Linked DNA regions of Homo sapiens: region 2 is linked to region 1. Evidence: fine-mapped expression QTL. A gene starts in region 1. The other region holds a variant in brackets. All regions are shown on one strand. Distances are between the middles of the regions.

Region 1 (9,354 bases):
TTCACCCTCACTGTCTTCCCTCAGATGACTGTTCTCAGGGGCAGTTTTCTCCAGTGTAGGAGAGCACCCCTGACGACATGCCTGAAGCCTGGCTCTTCCCTGTGAGATGATGCTGGTTTTGCCACTGTTTCCTGCCCTCTCTGACCACCTGTACTTCCCGGGCTGGGGCTGCTGGGGGCTCCCAGAGTTGTGGGCTGGGCAGGGGACACCCTCAGTCTCTGGAAGCCAATGAGCTGTGCTCTGCAGGGTGGGCCCTCTGGCTGTGATCATATGGTGCTGACTGGCCTCGCAGGGCCAGAGGAGCTCTGGGAGCTGGTGTGGCAGCACGGGGCTCATGTGCTTGTCTCTCTGTGCCCACTCGATGCCATGGAGAAGGTGAGAGTGCAGAGGACAGAGGAAGGGAGGCTCAGGAGTTAGGGCTGAGGTTGGAGGCGGGTAGTTTGTGGTGCTGTCTAACCAGGGCAGGGGCAGAGATCTCAGGAAGTTGCCTGAGCAGCCCTAACTTGGTCCCAGCCACAGGAATTCTGGCCAATGGAGATGCAGCCCATAGTCACAGACATGGTGACAGTGCACTGGGTGGCCGAGAGCAGCACAGTGGGCTGGCTCTGTGCCCTCTTCAGGGTCACACATGTAGGTGTTGGGGCCACAGGGCATGGGGTGGTGTGTGGGAGAAGAGTCCTGTGTGGGCTCCCTCTGCCCTCTCCAGCACCAATGCCGATCATGTCTTTGCCCGAGGGGGAGAGTAGGAAGGAAAGGGAGGTGCAGAGACTGCAGTTTCCATACCTGGAGCCTGGGCATGAGCTGCCCGCCACCACCCTGCTGCCCTTCCTGGCTGCTGTGGGCCAGTGCTGCTCTCGGGGCAACAGCAAGAAGCCGGGCACACTGCTCAGCCACTCCAGGTGTTGCTGGACAATGGTCTTGGGGGAGTGGACACTGGAAGCCCCTCCCTGCCCCTCTGGCATAGCCTCAGATCTCCCTGGGCCCTGCTTGGGTTATGGGCCAAAAGGACACAGTCTCACAATGCCCCTGTCTTCCCCACACCCTACCCTGTCCTCAGGAATATGGTGGGAATTTACCGCCTCCCTCCCTGGGCCCAGGCTGGCTGGCTGGCTGACCAAGTGTTCGGTGTCCCTTCTCAGTCCCTGCACCCAGGTTGGATTTTTGCAGATCCCCGGACACCCCCGCCACATCCCCGGACACCCCTGCCACACCCCCTTTAGGTACCTCATCCAACTCTAGGTCAGTTGCAGCAAGGGTGCGACCCAGCTGGGCACCTTCCTGGCCATGGAGCAGCTGCTGCAGCAGGCAGGGTCTGAGTGCACCGTGGATGTCTTTAACGTGGCCCTGCAGCAGTCTCAGGCCTGTGACCTTATGACCCCAACGCTGGTGAGAGGCGATGGGGCTGGGGTGGGGGCGTGGGGGCTCAGCTGTGGGAAGGGGTGGGAGGTGAGGGAGCTTCTGCCCAGGCCTCTAGGCAGCACCACCCGGGTAGCCACCAGGTGGCGCTGTGGACCTCTGTGCATTCTCCCAGATGGAGCCCTAGGGGTTGGGACACACAAGGGAGCCCTTTTCTGTTAGATTGGGGCAGGCGGGGCGAGCCTCCTAACCCTATGTCCATCTCCAGAAGCAGTATATCTACCTCTACAATTGTCTGAACAGCGCACTGGCAGACGGGCTGCCCCTGAGTCGGCACTGGTCACTGTGCAGGAGAGGTTTGTGCCCTGTGGGATGGGGACAGCATTCCTGACACATCCACGTGGGCCTGGGCTCCCCAGAAGGGCGGCCTCCACTGGGCCCTGTGCTGCAAAGGTAAAGGGTCTTGGAATAAAGACCTGTGGCCAAGCGTGAAGCTCAGTGTGTTCTGTCTGTCCGTCCTCAGACCTGGGCCCCGTGTGTGGGTCTTGTGGGCAAACGTGGAGCCGGGATGGAAGCTAGGACCTGGAGTCTGGTTGAACTAGGTGACCTATGGCCCCTATGGTGTTGGTTTTTCCCCTGAAGCAATCCTCTCCCTGCTAATCCTTCAGTTTCTAAATATCCTCAGACTTTGGTCTCTCCACGTCTAGTTTCCTGTGGTGCTAAGCCCTGGATTCAGAATCACAGCTCCAAATTGTTCGTCCTCTGCCCCACCACCCTGTACGCACCACGCTGTATGCAGTAGGGTTTATCCTGTTTCCCACTTCCCTTCTCCTGCCATCCCCAGCCTTCTCTACCTGCCAGAGCCCCCAGGGGCCACCCTCAGCCCCCACCAGGATGGAGGTGCCAGAGCTACCCTGTTACTCAGAAGGCAGGCGCTGGAGGCACCCCTCAGGCGGAGGTGCCAAGTTTTCCCTGCTCCTTTGCTCTCTCCTCCTTCCTCCCCTCCACATAGGAGGAGGTGGAGGAGAAAGCAGGGAGGGCATATGGAGAAAGGAAAAACCAGGAGGAGCAGCAGAGACCAGAAAAGAGGGCGGGGAGGCAGCTGTCTGTCCCACACACTCTAGGACTGCACTGCATACCATGTGCGTGATTGCTGGTGGCCACATGAGCTCCTGCCTCCCTCCCTGGTCAGGCTGGGAGTTTCCAGGTGCAGTGCCTGATGCTGGACCTTAACTGCCCCTGGTGGAAGGCCCTGGGAGGACACAGAGAAAACCTGGACAGATCAGAGCAAGAGTCCCTGAAGTGGAGTTGGGTCTCCCCAAGGGGAAGAGGGGAGAGCTCTTTGGCCAACCTGAGTTCCTACTAAGGTGCAACGGGTCAGAAGTCAGTGGAGGGTCCTTCTCAGGGCTGGTTGAAGAAGGGTACAGAGGTCGTGCTGGCTGCTCAGCCGGGAGCTTTCCCAGAATGAGACTAAAGCACTGGTGCCCTCCCAGGAGGACTAAATGTCAGTGTCCTCCATATGCCATGTTTATCAGGAGCTGAGGGTGGGCCCCCTAATGACCCTCATAAAAGCAGGCTGGAGGCTCTGCTCTGAGCTGCCCAAGTCTGTCTCAAGCAGCTGCTGCTGAGGTTGAAACAGGGCTCAACCATGGCTTTTCCACTCTGGGAAGATCTCACATTGGAGCAGCAGGAGCTGCAAATGAGATGGAGCCGAGGCTATGGTTGAGTGAAGGAAGTGCAGGCTGGCCTGCGGTAGCTTTCTTCCATAGGGCAGAGGTGGCTCTATCTGTGGGTCTTTCTGGTCATGTAGGCCCATCCTCTGGCCTTCCTAGGAGGCTCGTCTTCTTTTATTTATTTATTTATTTATTATTTTTTTTTAATTGATCATTCTTGGGTGTTTCTCGCAGAGGGGGATTTGGCAGGGTCACAGGACAATAGTGGAGGGAAGGTCAGCAGATAAACAAGTGAACAAAGGTCTCTGGTTTTCCTAGGCAGAGGACCCTGCGGCCTTCCGCAGTGTTTGTGTCCCTGGGTACTTGAGATTAGGGAGTGGTGATGACTCTTAACGAGCATGCTGCCTTCAAGCCTCTGTTTAACAAAGCACATCTTGCACCGCCCTTAATCCATTTAACCCTGAGTGGACACAGCACATGTTTCAGAGAGCACAGGGTTGGGGGTAAGGTCACAGATCAACAGGATCCCAAGGCAGAAGAATTTTTCTTAGTACAGAACAAAATGAAAAGTCTCCCATGTCTACCTCTTTCTACACAGACACGGCAACCATCCGATTTCTCAATCTTTTCCCCACCTTTCCCGCCTTTCTATTCCACATAGCCGCCATTGTCATCCTGGCCCGTTCTCAATGAGCTGTTGGGCACACCTCCCGGACGGGGCGGCTGGCCGGGCAGAGGGGCTCCTCACTTTCCAGTAGGGGCGGCCGGGCAGAGGCGCCCCTCACCTCCCGGACGGGGCGGCTGGCCAGGCGGGGGGCTGACCCCCCCACCTCCCTCCCGGATGGGGCGGCTGGCCGGGCAGAGGGGCTCCTCACTTCCCAGTAGGGGCGGCCGGGCAGAGGCGCCCCTCACCTCCCGAGCGGCTGGCCGGGCGGGGGGCTGATTCCCCCACCTCCCTTCCGGACGGGGCGGCTGGCCAGGCGGGGAGCTGACCCCCCCATCTCCCTCCCGGACGGGGTGGCTGCCGGGCGGAGACGCTCCTCACTTCCCAGACGGGGTGGCTGCCGGGCGGAGGGGCTCCTCACTTCTCAGACGGGGCGGCTGCTGGGCGGAGGGGCTCCTCACTTCTCAGACAGGGCGGTTGCCAGGCAGAGGGTCTCCTCACTTCTCAGACGGGGCGGCCGGGGAGAGACGCTCTTCACATCCCGGACGGGGCGACAGGGCAGAGGCGCTCCCCACATCTCAGACGATGGGCAGCCGGGCAGAGACGCTCCTCACTTCCTAGATGGGATGGCGGCCGGGAAGAGGTGCTCCTCACTTCCTAGATGGGATGGCGGCTGGGCAGAGACGCTCCTCACTTTCCAGACTGGGCAGCCAGGCAGAGGGGCTCCTCACATCCCAGACGATGGGCGGCCAGGCAGAGACGCTCCTCACTTCCCAGACGGGGTGGCGGCCGGGCAGAGGCTGCAATCTCGGCACTTTGGGAGGCCAAGGCAGGCTGCTGGGAGGTGGATGTTGTAGCGAGCCGAGATCACGCCACTGCACTCCAGCCTGGGCACCATTGAGCACTGAGTGAAGGAGACTCCGTCTGCAATCCCGGCACCTCGGGAGGCCGAGGCTGGCGGATCACTCGCAGTTAGGAGCTGGAGACCAGCCTGGCCAACACAGCGAAACCCCGTCTCCACCCAAAAAATACGAAAACCAGTCAGGCGTGGCGGCATGCGCCTGCAATTGCAGGCACTCGGCAGGCTGAGGCAGGAGAATCAGGCAGGGAGGTTGCAGTGAGCCGAGATGGCAGCAGTACAGTCCAGCTTCGGCTCGGCATCAGAGGGAGACCGTGGAAAGAGGGGAGAGGGAGAGGGAGAGCGAGAGCGGAGGCTCGTCTTCTACTTTCAGCGCCATGGCACCAACTGGAGGCCTAGGGTCAAGGTCTGCTCATTTCTTGGTCCAGCTATGCAGCCCCTCTAGCCCTGGGAGGTTATTGGGAGAGTGGAGAGGTGTTGATGAGAGGATCCTGGCATGTGGAAAGACAGGGTGGAAGAAATCCTGGATGCCTCTGAGGTCCCAGGTTTCTAGTATACCCTCTGGCTGGACCATGGGGAGATAGGGCAAAAAAAGGAAGGAGGGGGGCCCACAGCCTGCTCTAGCTCTGCGCGGGGGCTTGGCTCAGCATGGGAGAGACCAGAGAGAGCAAGAGGCTGCATGAAGGAAGCACAGCCAGCTCACTATGGTCTAAGGAGAGAACAGGGATTGACCTCAGTTTTAACCACCATGCCCTTTGCTCTCCAGGGCTCTGGGGCCGGCCCAGGTCAGCCACTTGGTGGGATTCCAGCCTCAGGGTGGCTGAGCTGCAGGTGCAGCACCCGGCCTCCAGGTGGCACCAATCCGCTTACTTTGAGGTGGGCTCTGACAACCAGCTGAGCTGCCCACAGTCCCTCAGACTCCCGAGGTCCTGGGAGCAGGGATCAAGGTGGTCCCCAGGCCGTAAACCTGACAGAGGCTGCAGGAGTGCATTTCCACCCAGGGTGCACTCAGCGGGTGTAACTCCACACCCGTTTCTTTGGAGTCAAGGCCCGGCCTCTCAGTGAGGAGACTGCTCCTGGTTGCCCACCGTCGGGTCATCCCAGCCTGCAGTGGAACCCTCCGCAGCCTGGCCTCTTCCAGGGTAGCCCCTCACTCCCCTCTCTCCTGTCCTAGCAGACAGGCCAGGGAGGGTGGACGAGTTCCAGCTCTGGGGATGTCCCATCAGCTGTGTCACCTTGAACAAATCATTTTGCCTCTTGGGTCTCAGTTTCCTGCAGTGTGAAACGTGGTGGAGGCATGAGGGGCAATGGGAGCCCCAAGGCCTCTTTCAGAGACCTCCTCTGGGTCCCATGTGACCTCGTGGCTGTCCCCAAAGGCAAGAGGGTCCCCAGCCCTGCGGCCAAGGCCCTGGGACACCCTATCCAAACAAATGCAGGTCTCTGACGGGCTGAGCTTTGCTCGCTTGGGTTTCTTTGCTTTCTTCCTTTTTTTTTTTTCTTTCCTGGATGAAATTCCTGCCAGCTCCGAAGGAAGGAGGGAAGAGGAGCGAGCCGCAGTGTAGAAAGTTTCCTTGACTCCTCCTCCGGCTGGGTCTCCCTCCCTTGCCAAGCCCAGCCTGTGAAACTGAATAACGAAGATCACTCAACAATGCCTGCCCCTCTCTGACTGCACCGTCCCGGCGCTCCCACCGCCGCCGCCGCCGCCCAATAGAGCCCCTGGGGCGGTCCCCACCGACGGTGCAGCCCGCCGGGACCGGGAGGAAGCAGCTGCGGCCATCGCGCCGTGCGTCCGCGCCCGGCCGCCAGGTGCCCCAGTAGCCCGACCGCCGAGATGCCCAGCCCGCCGGGGCTCCGGGCGCTATGGCTTTGCGCCGCGCTGTGCGCTTCCCGGAGGGCCGGCGGCGCCCCCCAGCCCGGCCCGGGGCCCACCGCCTGCCCGGCCCCCTGCCACTGCCAGGAGGACGGCATCATGCTGTCTGCCGACTGCTCTGAGCTCGGGCTGTCCGCCGTTCCGGGGGACCTGGACCCCCTGACGGCTTACCTGTGAGTACTGCCCGCCTGTCCCCGCCTGGTCCTGCGGGCTGCTGGCTAGCGCCCAGTCCCGGCCTCAGCAGGGCACCTGCTTGCTTGGTGCCCTGGGGCATGGGCATCCCGGAGAGGGTTTGCCCCCTTCCAAGTTGACCGTTGCGGGACTGGGGAGGGGAGAAGAGTCTGAGACTAAATACCAGGCGAGCAGGGAGACCGGGCTTCCCTGACTTGGCTTCCCCATTGGCCTCCGTGCTTGTGGGCTGACTATGGGAGCCCAGGCTTGGCGAGGTGGGTTCTGGACCCTGAGCGGGAGGGCGCGGGGCTGGCTGCTCCATCTCCTGTTGCTGCATTCTCTTCTAGCAGAGCAGTGCCCGGGATGGTGGCTGAGGGTAAAGCTGACAGAACTGGAGGTGGAGGTGAGGGGAGCGTGCCCCAGTAGGGTGGAAATAATGTCTGTTCTTCTGCCATGGTGAGGACAACAGGGCTGTCACACTGAGGCTGGGTGGCCTTCGTGGGGGCGGGGGGGGCGGGTTTCCTAGAAGCTGGGAGGGGGGCCTTATCCACTCTTGTCTCCTCAGAAAGGGACTCTGCCAGCACCATCTCCCTTCACTGGGGCCTCCTGGCTCCCCCAGGGGCCTCCCTAAAGTCATGTCCCAAGAGGCTGTGTTGGAGACACTAATTTGTGGGCAGGCGCCGAGGCTGAAAACCAGAGAACCATTTTTAGCGTCTGAGTTGGGGTGAGATGGCGCGTGAAGGGGACCCTACTGGGGGCAGCTGTCCTGTCTGTCTGGCTCATGGGAGCTTCCCCTCAGAGCTGGAGGGCTGGGGGCTCTGGCTGCTCACCACCTGGGCAGGAGGAGGGTGAGAGAGCACATTCCAGGCCACCCACCTGCACCCCCAGCCCCGCTCTGGGGCAAGGAAACCTCCTCCAGCCCAGCTCTGCAGGCTCTATCAACTTCCTCAGAGGAGCTGGGAGCAGGTGGGAAAGCCTGGTGGGGCCTTCTGCTGAGGGCTAGGATCCCAGAGTTCCTTCTGGCCTGAGAGAGGCTCCTTATGGCTTTGGGGTTCCAGCACATGGGAGCTTAGAGGAAGAGGAGGCTGGGTGAATCTTTATAGGGGCCTAGCAAGAATTTGTGGAACTAAAGATGCTCAGTGTTGGGAGTGTCCTGGTGGGAGGTAGAGGGTCCCAGAGGGCAACTCTTCATGGGGCTCCTCTCCAAATGTCCCTGTCCCCAGGTTGGGATGTCCCCCTCCACTCCAAAAGGCACAGGCTGTGGGCCAGGTAAGGGAGTGGGAAGAGAAAAATAATGTCCATCTAGAAGGACAAATGGAATCCTTCACAGTGCAGTAGGTGACGGCAGAGGCAATCATGGGAATAAAGGTACCAACTGCACAGAGCCTGGGCGCTCAGCATCTGGCAAAGCAGGGCAGGCTCCGGCCCCACCCTACACACAGGCCAGCCCCTCTTTCAGCAGTTTTCTATCCTGGGAGTATGTGACATTGGTTCATTTGAAGACAGGGTCCTGTGGCTAAAGAGTTTAGATGTGACTTCTGTGGAGCCTTTCTCTGGGTGAGCTGAAGGAAGGTCCCTTGCCTGGGTTGAAGGGGCAGGGGAGATAAGGCCTTCCAGAGCTTCCTTTCCCAGCATTAAGTCTTCCTAGACTGGTTAATGACCCTTTTTCTAGAAGGACTTGGGGAAGGAGGTACACTGTCACCTTTGGAATTCAAGCATCCTACCATCCATGCTGGCAGAAGTTTTTCCCACTAGCTTGCCACAATTCCCTCGGAGCTGTGAAGTCTGCATTTGGGTTCAGTGGAGGTGGGGTTTTCTGAGCTGGTCTGTGTCTTCCTGGGGATTGAGAAAGCCCCTCTCTCTCAAGACTCAGGGGATGCTTCTGAGAGTTGTGGAGAGAAGAGAGGGAGTGGGAGCTATAAAGAGTATGATGGGTCCTGAGGCAATATGGGGAATTTAGCAGTGGGGTCTGGAATATTGGAAGGAGGTGGCAGAGGACCGTGTCCCCTGCCCTGGGCTGGGGAGGGGTCCCATCTGGATGGTGCATGAAGGATTCCTACAGTTGTCCTGAGGGTGTCTCAGAGGAGGAATTTTCTTTCTTTGCCCTCTCTGGAGAACAGCTCTACCAGAAAGGCACCTGAAGGTGGGGTTGAGAGCTGGCATGCAGAAGAGCCAGGGTGGGGAAGTCTTGGGGCTCCTTTCTCTTTTCAGCGATGTTAGGAGATGTCCAGCTTGGCCCTGCCCCATGTATCCCAGCCCTTGCTGAGGAGAGCACAGATTCGCATCTGATGATATAATCAGCAGTGCCTCTCTCTGAGCCACTCAAACTTTGGTTCCTTCCTAGCTCTGCCACCTACTGAGAATCACTCACTGAACACCTCTAAGCCTCAGGTTCTTCATGTGTACATGGAGATGAGGAAGCAGGTTGCTGAGTGGATTAAATGAGATAATATGTTCAATGAAAGTCCCCAGAGTGCCTGACACCCGAGGGTAACTCTGAAATGGTGGCTAGTATTATCATGCCTCCTATGGGTGCTCCATGGAGGTGGAGGTAAACTACCAGGCCTCTCCACACCAGAAGAAAATTGAGCCTAGTGGGTGAGTGTAGAATTCAAGGGAATGGTTTGTGGCTGGAGGAAGAGAGCTGTGTGCTGGGGAGGTGACTGTCAGGGCAACTCTTGATCAATACTTGGCTGGTTCTGGGGACTTGGAGCCCAACCAGTTGGTGAAAATTGGGGGTTGGGGATCGGGAGGGAGAGTG
Region 2 (9,354 bases), 28 kb before region 1:
TAAGGGAAGGACAGGATCTATTTGGTGGGACCCAGGGCAGAAGGCAGTCTCGGGGTAGAGTAACGGCAAGATAAAGGGTAGAGATTGTGGATGAAGATAGGAAAGAATCCAGAAGGAGGAAAAGAGAGAGGGGAGAGAGGCCACACACCAGAGTACACAGGGCTCTGAGCAGGTCCAAGTGGGAGAAGGCAAGGGAGGAAACAGAAAATATGTGTTCTCTAGGACGGAAGGGAGAAAGCACGCAGAAGCCATCTCTGAGCTAACCAGTGGGCCTTCCCCTGAACAGAGAATGGAGGCCTCCAGCAGTGTTGGAGCTGGTTGGGCAGCCAGGCAGGCGGGCTCCTGGACCCCAGCAGGGTCCTCTCCTAACTGCTGCTGTTCCACTCCCAGGTCTGTTTCTGGCTTCTGGGGTCTCTGTCCAGGGAGGTAGGCTGGAGGTGTTTCCTTCCTCCTCCTGCCCATCCCCCCGTCTCCCGCCTCTGTAACCGTCACAGGAAATGGCCTCACCAAGCCCTTGAACGACAGCGCATGGTGAGGCGACAGCTGGGGGCAAGACAGGAGGCATGGAGGTGGTGGGACCATCTCCTCTTGGGGGCAGTCCCTATCTCCCAGAGCCAGGGTCACAGTGGGCGAGGTGGCGGGGGTGTTGAATCACCAAGGCAGCAGGGACGGAGGTGAGGGGACAGAATGGGCCTGGCACAGGTGTGAGTGGTAGAGCGAGGGTCTCTGGTAGCAGAAAAGGTCCCTTCAGCCTCTGCTCTCCTTGTAGCTCCCTGTGGCTTCCCTGCTCACCCCCGTCTTGGGGACATCAGGTCTGTGAGCACCCATACCCCAGCCAGGCACTGTGGCGCCCCACTCGCCCTCCCGCACTCCCTCCTAGAGATGCCCTCTTATATCCCCGGAGTTCGCACCCCCCGGGGCCACAGGACTCCCAGTCCCCCCTTCAGATACTTACTGAAGCAGCTGTGGCCCCCAGGCTGCCTCTTGCCAGCTGTCTGTCTGTCTGTCGGTCTGTCTTTGAGGGCTGAGAAGGCTCCAGGAAGCCAGCTTCCTCCCTCCGCCCCTCCTTGCTGCCACCCACGCACACCCCAGCTGCATTCTGCCCTCCTGTGCCTGCTGCCGCTGCCACCAGGGGTCGGCTGCCTCCCGCCTGTGCCCTTCTGGGGCCCAAGGCCCCGTTCCCTGGGAATGGGTGAGGGGCCAGGCCTTCCCGACCATCCTGCTTTCCCCAGCTTCCAGACCCTCTCCCCTCTTCTGTGTTTCTCCTCTGGGTCTTTGTCACATCCAGCCGCTGCCTACTTGCTGGGCACAGCTCGCCTGACCCCCAGCTCTGTGCTGTCCCACAAAGAACCCAAGGCTCTCCTGCTCAACCTGACCTTGGCCGGAGGCTTATTTCTCCTTCTCTGCTTCTGCCCCACAGCCCTCTCCCTCAAGGCCCTCTCCCTCAAGGCCCTCTCCCTCAAAGCCCTTGCTGCTTCAAGCCTTGGGAATTCATGGCCAAGCACAGACCACATCTTCCCAGAGCAGATGTGGCACAGACTCGGGGTGGGGAAAAAGAAGAAGCAAGAATCCATGCCTCACAATGTGAAGGAAAGGGCCGGGGCCAGGCCAAAAAGGTCGTCTCCACGCCTGTGCCACGGCCCAGCTCTCCACAGCCCACGGCCTGAGTGTAGGCCAGCCCAGCAGGAAGCAGATAGCAGAGTCCACTTGTGGGAGGGAGTCCGAGGGGCTTCCCCTGGGCCCTCAGCCCCCTGCAGGCCTCCTCCCAGAACCCTGACATCTACTTAGAAGACTTACAGACAGTGGACAGTCTCTGGCCCTCACACCAGGGGACTCCCATGTCCTCTTCGCTGCTGGGGTGCCTGGATGCCTGGGACCTGAAGGGTGGCCCCCAAGTCCAAGACTCCTCTGCCCACTGCCCCTGCCTGACCTTGGCAGGCTCCTTGCGGGCCAGCAGCCCAGCCGGTTCATGCTCGCTGCACGCCTCCTTTTACCTTGTAACATTTCAAACGCCCTTCCCTTCCCGGCCCCCAACATGCACAATCCACGTCCTCTTTCTTCCTCCCACTTCCCTGATTCAGCTGTCAAATGGTGACAGCAAAAAAGAAATGAGGTACCCTAGGCACAGGGGGTAGGCATGCCGGAGGGGGTGGTCGGGAGGGGGCTGGCCTTCTGCTGGCCCCTTGAGGAGGAGGGTTGAGACGAAGAACAAGAACAGCCCCCAGAGGCTCAGAAGGCCTCCCAGCACCCGCCCTTGCTCTTGGCAGTGGGGACAGGGGCTGGCTCTTTTTTGAGCCCCTCCATGGCCAGCTGATCCTGGCACCTCCTTCCCTGCAGCCTGCGTTCCTCTCCGGAGTGGGTGGGTTTCCCTGAGGAGGAGGCCGATTAGGGCTGGGAAAGGGGTTGGTTCCCGTGCTCAGGACAGACTGGAGGGAAGCAGGAACCTGGGAATCCCTAACATGCTTGCGAGCAGTGACCTGGAGACTGGCCTCTGCCTCACCCCCCACACCAGTCAGTGTTTCCACTGGTGGGTAGTGGGGGCCCTGGGGACACAGGAGGGGGCAGGTGGGGGTTGGAAAGAGGGCCCGGCTCTGAGCCTATGCTGATTGTTATCAAGAACAGGAAGCTAGGACACCACAGGGGTGGGAGGAGGAAGCGGCAAAGCCCTCCCCACACAGGTCTGCCTGGTCCCCCCAAGTTTCCAGGGTCTGAGCCCTGTTGGCTGTGAGCCCACCCCTTTCCCCCACAGACTGAGGCCTAGCAGTGGCTGGACAGTTGGAAGCTGAGCTTCACAGCAAGGAAGCTGGGAGCCAGGCGATGGGGAAGATAGTTGGGGTTGGGGGTGGGGGTAGTGGCTGAGCATTAGGCAAGACCTCTCAAAGATCCCCTGTTCCCTCTGGGTGGATGTGGGGTAGAGGGGACAGTCACTCCTTGGCTCCTGCCCACTCCTTCTTCCCCTGTGCTTAGGGATACCTGGACATCCATGGAGGTGTGTGGCCAGAGCTCATGAGGGCTGAGGATGCCAACTGCAACCTCAGATGGCACAAGACATGCGTCATCGCCCTGCACCTCCCCCTCCCCAGCCTGGCCTGGTGACTTGGGACGCCCCTCTCTGCCCTCTCTGGAGTGGACTCTGTCCCATCCGGGCTGTTGGAAGGCTCCTGGGCGTGACTCCCTCTCCCCTCCAGAACCTTCCCACCCCTGGGGCCAAAAGGTCACAGCAGCTCTCAAACTTCCATCACTCGAATCGATTTGTGTTCCTGGGTTGAGATTTAGGTTCTAGCCACCCTCGACTCCAGAGAAAGTATAGTAATAGTTGGAAATCAGAAAGATCTATGCATAATGAGTCTAAACGTAGCTTATTAACTGTGTGACCTTGGGCAAATTGCTGAGTCTCAGGCTCCTCCTCAGCTTCCTCCCTCCACTGGGGGATGATCATAGCACCTCCCTTGTCAGCCCATGGTGTGCTTTGCTCACGGAGGAGAGGTTGGGAGTCAGCAGCCAGAGGACCGAGGAGCTGGGAGGAGCTGGCTGGGGAAGTGGGTCTGGGAGCAGCACAGGGTGAGGAGGTCATGGCTGCCGGGTCTCACCTCTCACCAGCCTCCCTCTTCCTCCTCACTGCTGACTTTCTCCCTGAACCCGGGCTGCCGGGGCACTTCCAGCCGAGCACTGAGGAAGTGCAGGAAGGAGTCACTCCCAGGGGTCTCCCAGCATCCCGGGTGGGACAGAGTCCACTCCAGGGAGGACAAAGAGGGGTGTCCCAAGCCACCAGGCCAGGCTGGGGAGGGACTGGTGCAGGGCATGATGCATCTTGAGAGTCAGCCTTGTCCCATCTGAGGCTGTGGTGGGTGCCCTCAGCCCTCCCAAGCTCTGGCCACACACGTCTTGACTCTCTTGTTTTCCCCTCTAGTGATTCCCAGTTCCAGGGCTGTGAGCCGCAGCTCCCTGCCCCAAGTGTCAGAAGCGCCCCCCTCCCTAGCCCAGGCCCGGGGAAAGGCGG[A/C]CATTACATCTGGAATTCCCAGAAGTCGTTGCTCTTTGCCAGCCCCTAGGGAGTAGGGAGCTCCTTGCTGGGGAGCAGTTGGCCCCCAGAGGCAAAGGCTGCCACCTTTTAACAATCCAAGGGGAGGATCCTGGGGAGAGAGTCAGCTGCCTGGGGCCAGGACTGCTGGGTCCTGCACACTCCAGCTGCTCTGCCCCCTTCCTAGCTGCCCTCCTCGGCTCCTCTCTGGAGAAGCACTAGGATCTCGGGTGGCTGTTCCTCCATCCTTCCCACCCCCAAAACCCTAGGCCAGCCTGAGCTGGCTTGTTCTGCCCCAACTTTGTAGGCCCTGGCTTGTTCCTGTTTGTGTCGGGGAGACAGAAACACCAAGAACTGGATCTGGGAAGCCTCATCCCACAGGAAGCAGGGAGACAGCAGGGGAGACAGGGTGAGTGGGGCAGGGAAGTGCTGTTAAGGGCATGGGATAAGTCCAGGCTGACCAGAGTGACAACTGCACCCCTGTCTCAAAGCTTCAACCCTGTGCCGGGCCAGCTAGGGACCTCCTGCTACCTTTTGGATGAAGGGGAACATCCCATACCCTTTACCCCTGGCTGAGAGGACCAGTAATCCAGCCCTGCTTGGCACTGGGATGCCAGGGCCAGCCTGCCAGGAGGTCCAGGAAAGTGCCTGGTTCTTTGCCCGATGCTGGAACTCAGGACCCTGGCAGGAAGGTTTTAGGATAGAAGAGTCCCTCCCTCTCTCCCAAGCCCAGAGCCAGCCAAATGGACATCTATTCTACAATGTGGCCTTTTCTTCCCAGGGGCTCCCGTCTCCCTCCCGCTCTGTGTTGTCCCCGGACACCCACTCATACATCCATCCAGACAGGTGTGTACACCCTCATGGCCCACGTTTGCACAAATGCACATGCACAGTGTCAATCCACACATGACCAGCCCCTCCCCTGCTCTCCCATGGCCTGGTCAGGGGGACCTAGGCCTTCCCCCACTCCCTGGCCACCTTCCCCATAGTATAGGCAGCAGGGGGAGTGGGCGACTTGGCTGTCCTGAGCCACCCTGCCCCTCTGCTGCCCGGTGATTATCTTCCTCCAGTGTGGGGGCTGCCCAAGGCCAGGCTTCAGGCTGTGGGAGAGCAGGGAGGGGCCGGAAGAGCGCTGCCTGGGACAGCTGTAGGCCAGGCCAGTTCACATTTGGAAGCCAGCACTCCCAGACCTGCCCCTTGCTCTCTCCTCTGCCTCCTGGCTGGCTCTCTCCAGAAGGAATCAGTAAGGTGCCCTGAGACCTCAGGGTAGCGGGGGGGAACCCCAGGGGTTCTCTAGGGAGAGGATGTGGGTTTGTCTGTGGGGGTGGTTGCTGGGGAGGAGATACAGCCCTCGTGGTACCTTTTCTTTTGCTGAATGGAGACGTTTGGGCTGGGGAGGCTGCTGCTTATTTATTTTATTTTTTTTGAAACGGAGTCTCACTCTGTCACCAGGCTGGAGTGCAGTGGTGCCATCTCAGCTCACTGCAACCTCTAACTCCCTGGTTCTAGTGATTCTCCTGCCTCAGCCTCCCGAGTAGCTGGGATTACAGGCATGTGCCGCCACACCCAGCGAATTTTTTGTATTTTTAGTAGAGACGAGGTTTCACCATTTTGGCCAGGATGGTCTTGATCTCCTGACCTGGTGATCCGCCCACCTTGGCCTCCCAAAGTCCTGAGATTACAGGCATGAGCCACCATGCCCAGCTTATTTATCAGAACCTCTAGGGGCCCTGTCTCCCGGTCCCCTAGGCTGCGCTGGGGGCTGGCAGCTGTGCATCTTAGGGCCAGGTGCCTCCTCAAGGCTCCGTCCAAAGGACTAGCTATGGAGTCTGTGCTGGGCCCCGCAGACCGCTTTTTTGTGGGGACTCTTGAGCAGGTTCTGACACACTCTGCCTCTACCTAGGCATGTGTCCTGTGTGTCTCTTCTCCTTAGATTCCGAATTAGGGCGCCTCCACCCCGCCTCTCCCCTTCTTGGTTGCTGATCAAGGCTACCAGAAAGAACAGAGTGAGATGTCCCCAGGTGAGGTGGGATGAGGGTGGGATGAGAAGGTACGATGTTTCCGCCACCTCTTGGCCAGACTGGGACCTCTTCCCTTTCACATCAGTTTCCCTGGTTGCAACCTTCCCCCGCCCGCCGCCCCCGCCTTTCAAAAGAGCACATATGCGCAGGCGCACACACGGCCTGGAAAATCTCCTGAGTCTGCAGTGCTGAGTTTCCAGGCCCCCATCCAGGGGCCGGGTGGGCGGCTCTGAGGTTTGGGGCTAGGTGGAGCGGGGGAGGAGCAAGCAGCCCCTGGCTGTGGCCTGAGCAGGGAGCTGGGCTGAGCTGGTCTTGGAGGCAGGCTTGTCCTCCCTGCTGGGGCAGGCCCAGGAGAATCCAGCTACCACAGAGGCTGCGTTGGTGTTCAGACTTCTATACCTGTGTGTTTTCCACACATCCCCTCTCCCCACTACCTGAGTTTGTTCTGAGTCCTGGGCTTCACTCCCAGGGCCCAAAGCCTTTTCTTCCATTCTCACTCCTCATCCTCAGCTGTCTGTAGGTGGGAGCACCTGGGTGAGCAGCTCGGGGTGACTCAAGGGCTCTAGTCAGGAGTAAAGCAAAGCCCCAAGTTCATTATCTTTGAGGCCAGGCCTCAGGCAGGCTTGCCTGGGTTCCAGCAGTGCCCAAAGCCAGGTGGGGGTTGGGAGGGGCAGGGGAACCAGGATGGACGCTGCTGATTCGGGGAAAAGAAGTGGGGGAAGGCAAGCAAAAGTCCCAGGTACTTGAATTGCTCCTCAGAGGATTCCCAGCTGAGAGGACCCCAATTTGGGAGGTTTGGAGCAGGGTCTGCCATCTCTGTTCTATGGAGTCCGAGGTCCCAGGTTCAAGCCCAGCTTTTCTGTTCAGACACTTGGGCTCTTCCCCTCTCTGGTTATCAGCTTCCTCATCTGGCAGTGATGAGGTGGGACCAGAGGAGGCCCAAGGGCCAGGTGGGCTCTAGATCTACAATTGCTGTGACTCAGCAGCCAAAGTATGTGCTTCTGTCCACAAGAGCGTGGTACCACATGGATATACAAAAGGAGACACACACTCAGCTGGCCATCCACCTAGGACACAGGAACACACATCCACATGGTGTCACCAAGACCACACGCACCCCCACAGAAACACTATCTATCTCGCACTCGGTGATGGAGTCAACAGACACTGTGCCCCTCCTCCAGAGCCAAGGAGTGGGACAGCCAGCTGCAAATGTGTCCATTTGCAGAGCCACCTCTCCTCTTGGTCTTCCCCAAGAGCACAGGACACTTTCCTCCCTGGAGAGCTGAGGGCTGGGAGTGGGCTACAGGTAGGGGAGGCATTAAGGAAGGAGACCACTACTACTTCTGCTGCCCTCCCTCCTCCCCCTCACCTTGCCTAGTTCACAAGACAGGAGGAAAGAGAGAAAGCAAAAAGTTGGAAAGAAACAGAAGTTAAGTAGCCAGACAACCTTAGCACCACCACCCGGCCCTAGGAGTTAAAAAAGTAATAATAATAATATCAACCCCTGACCTAAACTACTTGTGTTATCTGTGAATTCCAGACATTGTATGAAAAAGCACTGCAAAACTTTCTGTTCCGTTAGCTGATACATGTAGCCCCCAGTCACGTTCCCCACGCTTGCTCAATTTATCACGACCCTTTCACGTGGACCCCTTAGAGTTGTAAGCCTTTAAAAAGGCCAAGAATTTCTTTTTCAGGGAGCTCGGCTCTTAAGACGCAAGTCGGCTGACGCTCCCGGCTGAATAAACCTCTTCTTTCTTTTTTTTTTGTTTTGAGACAGAGTCTCACTCTATCACCCAGGCTGGAGTGCGGTGGCACGATCTCGGCTCACTGCAAGCTCCGCCTCCCGGGTTCACGCCATTCTCCTGCCTCAGCCTCCCTAGTAGCTGGGATTACAGGCACCTACCACCATGCCTGGCTAATTTTTGTATTTTTAGTAGAGACGGGGTTTCACCATAATAGCCAGGATGGTCTCGGTCTCCTGACCTCGTGACCCGCCCGCCTCGGGCTCCCAAAGTGCTGGGATTACAGGCGTGAGCCACTGTGCCCGGCCTCTTCCTTCTTTAATCTGGTGTCTGAGGAGTTTTGTCTGTGGCTCGTCCTGCTACAGCATCAGGAAGAGGTGGGCTTGTCTGCAGCCTGAGAGTCACAATCCCTTTCCACCTTCTGGGCCTGGAGCCAGCCTCCGCCTCTCTCCCTTCAAGAGCCTTGCCAAGGCTGGAGAGAGCGGGGGTCAGGCTCTGGGGCTAAGAGGCAGCCCCTTGCTTTTGCTGCCTGCTGCCTGCTGCCTGCTTGTGCTTGAAACTCTGCCCTTCCCACCCATGCCCGCCTTCCTTGCCTGCCAGCAAGCAAGGCAAGGTGGGCTAGGGGACTGGCTCCTCCCCTTGCTGCCTCCCAACTTTACTCTGCAGCTATCAGGATGAGGCTCCCAATCCTGTTCGCTGCCCTGCTCTGGTTCCGGGGTTTTCTGGCAGAGGTAAGGTGGGCATGGGGGAGCAGGCCAGCGGGTGGGGTCCCCGCTCTCCAGGGCACATCCAGATCTCCCAGCGCTCCTCGGGACCCCACAGCTGGTCTGCATTAGGCGAGGAGAGGCCACTCCCTTTCCACCAGGGCCAGCACGTGGCGCAGCGAGCGAGAACAGATTGCTCCAGCCTGCCTGGAGAACAGATGCGCCATGGGCATGCTTCCGGGAGATGCCCCTTGGCCATGTGTGGGGCTGTCAGACACGGCAACAGAGCCTTCTCTTGGATCCTGGCCCTGCCCCACCACCCAAAGTGCTGGGATTACAGGCGTGAGCCACCGCACCCGGCCTCTTCCTTCTTTAATCTGGTGTCTGAGGAGTTTTGTCTGCGGCTCGTCCTGCTACAGCATCAGGAAGAGGTGGGCTTGTCTGCAGCCTGAGAGTCACAATCCCCTTCCACCTTCCACCAGTAGCCTTCCCAGAGGCCTCTGTCCATTTCCCCAACTCTCTGCCTCCTTTCTTCCTGCAGGAGGAAGCATGCCTCTCCCTGGAAGGGAGTCCAGGCAGGGAGAGTGCAGGTAGGTGTCTTCAGCGGGGGAGGGAGTTCTGGGGGTGAAGAGTCGGGGGTGTGAGGCCAATTTTTCCACACCAGACCCTGGCTCTACCCTGGCTTTTTCTTTTTTTTGGCCTTCCATTCTTCTTTAAGGCAGAAAGGCTGTTAGTGGGTTCTGAAAGCACCTCCTTTTCCCCAGGCCCACCCCTGAACGTGAACATCACCAGCCAGGGGAGACCTACTAGCCTCTTTCTGAGCTGGGCAGCCCCGGGGCCAGGCAGGTTCACCCATGCCCTCC

The links. PIP is the estimated chance that this variant, and not a neighbour inherited with it, causes the effect.
Region 2: its variant is fine-mapped to the expression of LGR6 in whole blood (TOPMed, PIP above 0.99).

The regions. Positions count from the first base shown.
Region 1 is chr1:202,187,607-202,196,960 of GRCh38, forward strand. LGR6 (leucine rich repeat containing G protein-coupled receptor 6) reads left to right here and starts at 6,193. Exons shown (of 18, transcript NM_001017403.2): 1 at 6,193-6,595. The coding sequence starts at 6,384. It also overlaps the pseudogene PTPRVP. RefSeq lists a silencer at 1,403-1,452 and enhancers at 4,779-5,582, 5,277-5,326.
Region 2 is chr1:202,159,590-202,168,943 of GRCh38, forward strand. PTPN7 (protein tyrosine phosphatase non-receptor type 7) reads right to left here and starts at 1,013. Exons shown (of 10, transcript NM_002832.4): 1 at 956-1,013. It also overlaps the pseudogene PTPRVP. RefSeq lists enhancers at 224-303, 3,834-4,502, 5,082-5,582, 6,226-6,805. The variant A/C (reference allele first, on the strand shown) is at 4,001.